2 linked regions of the Homo sapiens genome follow. The protein of the gene in region 2 purifies or fractionates together with the protein of the main gene of each other region. This does not show direct contact. Each region holds a gene or a part of one and is shown on either strand. Other genes may lie near its edges.

Region 1 (3,750 bases), on a different chromosome or scaffold from region 2:
CTTTAAGGAGCTTACTGTGTAGTGGAAAAGAATAGGCTAATAGAAATAGATTTTGAGATTATTTAGTCCTTCCTTCCATGAAGTAAGGTTGTTTAAAATTATAAAGCATAATTTTATAAAGTTTTCTAAAATACTTAGGAAAAAAAGATTCCAAGGGCCTTGATATTGGTGAGTTTTCCACAAATGTTTAGGAAGTTCTAACAGAAATGATTTGGACTTTTCTTTAAGCTAATTTTTTTAAAGCTATTCTGTCCACATGAGATGAGCTATAGTACCTGGTCCTGAATACAGTAGTGTCTTCTTTTTCAGCTCCTTGACAGCGATGGCAGTTTCACACTGAGCCTGCATGAAGATGAGCTGTTCACACTCACCACTCTCACCACTGGTCGCAAAGGCAGCTACCCGCTTCCTCCAAAATCCCAGCCCTTCCCAAGTACCTATAAGGATGATTTCAATGTTGGTGAGTATTTTTCACTAAAACTTAACTTGGTCTCTATATTTAACAGTAGTGTGTTGATTTCTACCTGTCAAACTGGGTGCATGATGGAGTGGCTGTCAAAAGCACATTCATTTACCTCCTACATCTCATATGCGGTAAAAGGAGGGCTAATTTTTTGCATTACTTTATGGTAAATCTAAATTTGAGGACCCTGTATTTTTCAGTTTCAGAAAAAAATATAGGGTTCATTGTTAGAATGAAAGTTATAGTTCTGATTTGTTTTTGGTGAAACTTAAACTTTGTAACTTTGCTACTGCCCCATTAGCCATTACTGACATCTTCCTTCTGTGTGGAGGTTAAGACACATTCATATCTGTCTTTCTGCAGTGCTAGTGAACTGAGTGCTTATGGGCAGTTATGTTGTCCTTGGCTGATCCAACTCATTATATACCATCCCGTGCTTTTTTTTTAATTGAGCTTTCTTGGTTTTCTAGGAAGATCTGTCCTAAAGTTGTTAGAAAAGTTTTTGGTTATAGGTGATTTAGGAAAACCACTTGGAAAAAAGTTAGAAGACATGGTCATTGTAGTTATATTCCTAGTGAGTAAGTAACAAAATTTGTTGACTGCTTGGTGGTGTTCTGTAGGTTTATGGGTCTCACAGACAGGGTCAGGTGGCTTTGTAATCTGCTCCTAAAATCTGTAGCAGCAGGAGAGTAATAGGGAGGGAGCTGGCATTGCTGGAGCATCACTTGAAGCTCCTGTTTGCTGCAGAGCTGCTTGTTCCACCAAAGATGGACACTCCTATCACCCTTTCCCAGTCACTGCTACAGGGTCTCGCCTCCCTTTCTCAGGAAATGATCTAGTTGGCTGGAGTATAAGGCCTTTTGGACTGTGTAATGGAGTCCTCTCAACTATAATACAGACAACAGTGATCCTCAGGGGGAGCTTGGTGGTTTGTTTTTCTGCAACTCTTTGAAATGGCCTCTTAGATAAACCCATTAATTTTGTGAAACACAGGGTCTTTAAAATCTGTTGCTCGCTTGGTTCTCTGTTAGCAAAAGTGACTTTTGCCTTCAGTAAGTGAGGAATCTGTGTGGGATATGGCCTAGATAATGAGATTGAAGAACTGCCAGCACCAAGACCAATATTTTGTGACCCTGAAGACTAAGAGGCAATTTCAAACCTTCAAATATAAAATGTAATACTTTATGAGCTACAATATAAATTTAAAACTAAGTTAAATATTATAAGCTAGGCTCTGGAGATACTTGTTAGGGTTCTAAATGTCTCAAATGAGGTAATGAATGCAAAAACACTTGGAAAAGCATGAGGTATAAGAGCTATAAGATATGTAAAATTTCTCCTCTACAGCATTCATTATTGTAAGACTATAATTTAATTTAGTAAAACTAAAAAGGGATTGATAACTTAGGCCCAAAACTGGTTTTTGCTGCAGTTTAGAAGTAGAAGAAAATTTGTAAATTTTATGCTTGATATAGTAAACCTTTCTTATGCTCTTTTGGCAGATGATTGTGACGCATGATTTGGAACCTTGCTTGACAGATATTAGAAATAATAAAGCTATCCCTTATTGAGCCCTTGCCAGGTGCTGGCTTATGTACCTGTTATCTTTTCTTTAATTCTCTTGTCCTCCTGCAAACCTGGAAATGAAGAAACTTTAGATGCAGGGCAGTTAAATAGCTTGTCCAGGGCGACAGACTGAACTCGAATTTGAATCTAGGTCTTACTTCAAAACTCATGACCTTTCCTCTACACCAGATGCCTGGATTAAATATTATGCAGCATCTATATGTCGAACTCATCATCTTGATATTTAGTAATGATGATACAAAAATTAATGTATCTTTATTAGACCTAGGCCCTAAACTTTGGTTTAGATTTTATTTATTTATTTAAAAGCTTTCAGAAGTGTTTCAGACATACTATAAAATATCAGCAAGGAGAGCTTCTGAAGGATTTGATACTAAACAGAGAATTTCTTACATTCTGAACAGATTACCCATTTTTTAGTGAAGCTCCAAACTTTGCTGATCAAACTGGTGTATTTGAATATTTTACAAATATTGAAGACCCTGGCGAGCATCACTTCACGCTACGCCAAGTTCTCAACCAGAGACCCATTACATGGGCTGCCGATGCATCCAACACAATCAGTATTATAGGAGACTACAACTGGTAAGATTGATGTTCTCAATGTGGATCTGGCTGAAATACCCTTGTAATATTGTCAGGTACATTTTGAAGTGAAGAGTTTTCAATGGTCCTCCTATTTCAAGAACCTAATAGATGTGTAATATGTAATATTAAGGGTTGTTGAATAGTATGGTGATGACCACAAAGCTGCAAATTGTTTTGCTGCCCCAGTGTCCTTCCCTCATTTTTGCCCTATTTAATAGTGATTATTACAGGAGCAATTTGATTCCAGTATAAAAACTAAGGACTTTTGGACCCAATTATAATTTAATATTTGTTTATAAATAGACGGATTTGTGAGGTATTTTTAAGTTTTTGTTTTGCTGGAGAGTTGATTTGTTGATCTGGTGTTGCCATCTAGTGGACCAATCTTAGAATTACACCGTCTTAGCCTTATTAAAAGATTTACCAGGTGACAGTAGATGGCAATAGTAAAAAGCTAATCAGCTTTAGTCGCCTAGTGAATTTAACTTTTTATTTAGTCATCTGGTAAAGAGACAAGTTATATTATTCACATAAAATATAATGCCAAACTAAAACTTTCCCTTCCTCTTTAGTTACAGAATTTCTATGTGCTGACTTATTCCACCTGTCATGTGTTTCTTTTTCATTTTTTCCTATAACTAGTATGATTCCACTGTGGGAAAAGAAACACATACACATTCCAGGTTTAGAGCTAGTACTAGTAATACCAAGCCACCAAAAAGCCATATCCGAAGCTTGGAAACTGGAGAGGGAAGAGAAAAGAATTCTGAAAAGAGCCTTGAATTGCCTGTCTATGGAGTGTGCAGAAAGTGTTTATCCCTCCTGAAGTGCCTTACTCCCAGTTAGAAATCCTGATTCTAGTCCCAAGCTCTGACATAAGTCTTAAGAAACTTTTAGTTATCCAGAGCCCCTGGAACCCTTATAACACTATGAAGAGTTATTGAGGTGCAGTGAAGAATTCCTTCCTAATTTAGGATGACATTTGTGGCTTGTGTTTTTACGCAGAATTTCTGCTTGTCCCATTGTCTCTGAGGTGGAAACTTTACCTAGATTTTCCAGTTATGGTAGTGGAGTTCTTGGCATCCTTATTTGTGACTGATGGTCTTATTTTA
Region 2 (3,750 bases):
AGGCAAAAAAAAGAAAAGACATCTTTTTGCTTGCATTTCATGACTAATGAAGTTGAACATCTATTGGTTGAACATCTATGGAATATTCATAATCTTTGTCTGTTTCCTATTGGTATATTCATCTTACATATTCATTTCTAAGAGCTCTTTTTATAATAGGGATATCAACTATTATCATATCTTCCCCAATGTATCACTTATCTTTTAAATTTGTTGGTGGCATTTTTGCTCAAATGGAAAATTGCTTCCCAGCCATTTCAAATTAAAGCATACACACAGCATGCTGGGGTGAAGGGACAAGCAAATATGCTGGCCACCCCAGGCCCTGTTCAGTGACCCTGGGCGGGTCAAAATGCTGGTTCACTTAAGAGTAATGGCCTCCAGCTCCATCCAAGTTGCTGCAAAAGACAGTTTTTTGTTTTTGTATTTTTTTTTTTGAGACAGAGTCTCACTCTGTCACCCAGGCTGGAGTGCAGTGGCGGTATCTCAGCTCACTCACTGCAATCTCCACTCCCCTGGGTTCAAGCGATTCTCATGCCTCAGCCTCCCCAGTAGCTGGGACTACAGGCATGTGCCACCATGCCCAGCTAATTTTTGTATTCTTAGTAGAGACAGGGTTTCACCATGTTGGCCAGGCTGGTCTCAAACTCCTGACCTCAAGTGATCCACCTGCCTCGGCCTCCCAAAGTTCTGGAATTACAGGAGTGAGCCACTGCACCTGGCCCAAAAGACAGTATTTTGTTCCTTTTTATGGCTGAATAGTATTCCATGGTGTAAAAATCTATTGTAATAAAATTTTTAAAAAATCTTGGTTTACCTGTAATCCATTTGTACCATGCTATTTGGGAAGCTCTGGTAGAAAAGTCTAAAGTTATTTGTAAAATGATAAACCGTTTTGACAGAGGCGTCATGGGCGAACATGGGACAATAAAGCCTGTAGATGACAGTCTTTTCACCACGGAAAGGTGTGAACATGTGTGTGCATGCGTGCGTGCCCATCCCCGATCCGGGGAGGGAAGGGGACAGTCAGGCCTCACCTGTCTTCCTCCTGGGCGTGAGGCCCAGCGCCTGTCGGGTGCTGGACATGGGCCAGGTCCTCGCCCTGCCGCTGCTTCCTCTTATCCCTGATACTCAGGCAGATAGAAAGCAGCAGCAGCATCACCCCGGCCCCGACCAGCACGTAGGCCACAGAGAAGGTCTTGCTCTTGAGGATGCCGCCACCCACCTCGGTCTTGTTGCTGCCCTGAGCTGTTGGCTTCTCGGCCGCGCTGAAGCCGGGTACCAGGTTCCACATGGCCATGATCACCCCAAGGACCAGCATCCCCAGGCCGATGGCGGTCAGCGCATAGTGCGAGCCATTGGCCTTGGACTGGGCCATCATGTCAGTGGGAGGAGGGCGAGGCCCAGTTCCAAGAAAGAAAATAAATGTATACAAGGCAGCAGTCACAACAAAAACCCCTTAAATGCGCTCCACAAAATCTCTCGCCCCACACTAGAAAATATCAGCTGAACTCCTGCGGGATGGTTCCGAGCAATCGCGAGGCCTCCCGTGCGGATGGCTGCGGTGGAAGGGCCTGGAAGGAAAGCAGAAAGAGCAGAGAGGACGATCAGTTCCGATTCCAGACGCTTTGTGAATGTGGCGGCTCTGCTCTTGAAGGAGTTAGGCAGCAGCACCGAGCACGCCGGCTCTGGCTGGGCCTCGCCTTTGATGCATTCCAGATGTCTTACGTGCTCAGGCTCCTTGTGCGAGGCTGCGAGAAGGGAGGCCGGTCTGCCCAGCCCGCTACTCCCTGAAAAGGAAAAGCCAGACCTTTCCCTGCTGGAGGCCAGAAAGGTCGGAGCTCAGGTCATTAAAACATTGTGTGGAATTTAATGAAGTGCAGTAAAATCGTAGCTCTTGCTGGAGGCTGCTGGGAGAGTGAGCGATGGGATGAATGGTCCACAATCGATGGTTGTAACAGACTCACCTGGGGGACAGGGCCTCAGCCAATGGTATGACCAGGCCAAACAGCCTACTGTCATCTGTTCCCCACCCTCAATGGCTCCCTACTTCCTGCAGGAGAAAATCCAGCTTCTTAGAATGATGCTGCTCATGGTGGCCTTAGCCTGGCTCCTGCCTCTCCTACTGCATGTCTCAGCCTGCCTTTCTTTGCACTACCCACCCCCAACCACCCTCCAGAACATTTCTCTGGTCACCCATAGCTCAGATGCCCCTTTCATGTGCTCCCCAAATCCTCCAGCAACCACCGTGGTGAGTCTCTCTCTTCCCATGACCACATTGTCATCATCTCTAAGCCTGGCACACAGCAGGGACTCAAAAAATGTTTGCAGAGTTCATGCCTGTAATCCCAGCACTTGGGGAGGCCGAGGTGGATGGATCACGAGGTCAAGAGATCAAGACCATCCTGGCCAACATGGTAAAACCCCGTCTCTACTAAAAATACAAAAAAAAAAAAAAAAAAGGCTGGGTGCTGTGGCACGTGCCAGTAATCCCAACTATTTGGGAGGCTGAGGCAGGAGAATTGCTTGAACCTGGGAGATGGAGGTTGCAGTGAGCCGAGATTGTGCCACTGCACTCCAGCCTGGGTGACAGAGCAAGACTCTGTCTCGAAAAAAAAAAGTTTGCAGAGTCAATGTTGGATGAAATGAATGCAGGCCACATGAAGTCACCCAGCAAGACAAGCTTCTCTGAAACCACATCGAGTTCTCCCTTTGTTAAAAGGGACACAGGCCTGCACATTCTTCCTCTCCGCTCCTGTGCCCAGCTGGACAAAATAAACCTTCTTTCCACAAAGCAGCCCAGAGACCCTGCGCTAAAGGGAGCAGCCAGCGGTCCTGGGATTCCACAGCATTTGTTGGTTGAGAGCGAGCCAGAGAAGCAGTCACTCAAGGCTTTAGTTTAGAACATTCTCAAGGACTGAGGAGGAGGAGCAAGCAATGCCCCTTGCTAAACCTCTCCCCCATACATTATTCCTGTGACAGGAACTTTTGCAAAACAGTAAAATTTACAAGATGTTTAGCTGGGCAAGGACCTGTTTTCAATTCTGCATTTTTTCCAGTCTCTCCGAAAGGATGACTGACCAGGCTGCTTGAAATCTGATGCTGCGAAGATATTTTCTTGTGAAACCATGAGTTTATCTGAAATTGGCCACTTTGTTAAAAGAGACTCTAAAAATATTTGGAACAACATCCTTTATCAGCTTTAAGTCTGTTCCTTCTTTTTTTCACCCAACAAATATTTCTTGTGCATCTCACTACCTCCTAAGTAGCGAGTTAGGCACTGGAGAAACAGCAGTGAGCAAGTTAAGGATTAGCAGAGCTTCTAGGCCAGCAGGAAAATGATCTATAGGGAATACCAATAAAGTAAGAAGGAAGTACAGGAACTGTGGGATTAGACAGCAGGGTGTCCTAGCTCAGGGCTGTGGGACATACAGAAAGTCTATGTGGGAGAGGATTCCCACTGGCCTAATTGGGCCTGAACCCTGAATGCACAGCACTGTGTATGTGCACGTGCGTGAACGCACTGGCTCTGCTCTTGAAGGAGTTAAGAAGAAGCACCAAGGCACACTGGGGCATGAACACGTGTGCATATATGTTTATGCACACATGAGCACATGTGCATGCGTGCGAGCACCTATGTACATATGCATGCATATGTATGGAATATGAACAGGTAGGATGGGCATGTGTGTGGCGTGCAGGGCGCTGAACAGGGATCCCACTGCAGACAGCTGCGGTAGGACCAGATGG

Evidence for each region.
Region 1: the proteins of TMEM51 (region 2) and GALC purify together in Homo sapiens (affinity purification with mass spectrometry; 3 studies listed by BioGRID and IntAct, with this or other methods). This does not show direct contact.

Annotation. Positions count from the first base shown.
Region 1 is NC_000014.9:87,944,438-87,948,187, reverse strand, and holds part of GALC (galactocerebrosidase isoform a precursor), read left to right. Parts: intron 1-309; coding exon 310-460; intron 461-2,454; coding exon 2,455-2,635; intron 2,636-3,750. UniProt on the Homo sapiens protein: Hydrolyzes the galactose ester bonds of glycolipids such as galactosylceramide and galactosylsphingosine.
Region 2 is NC_000001.11:15,212,719-15,216,468, reverse strand, and holds part of TMEM51 (transmembrane protein 51), read right to left. Parts: intron 1,575-3,750; 5' UTR 1,382-1,574; coding exon 1,038-1,381; intron 1-1,037.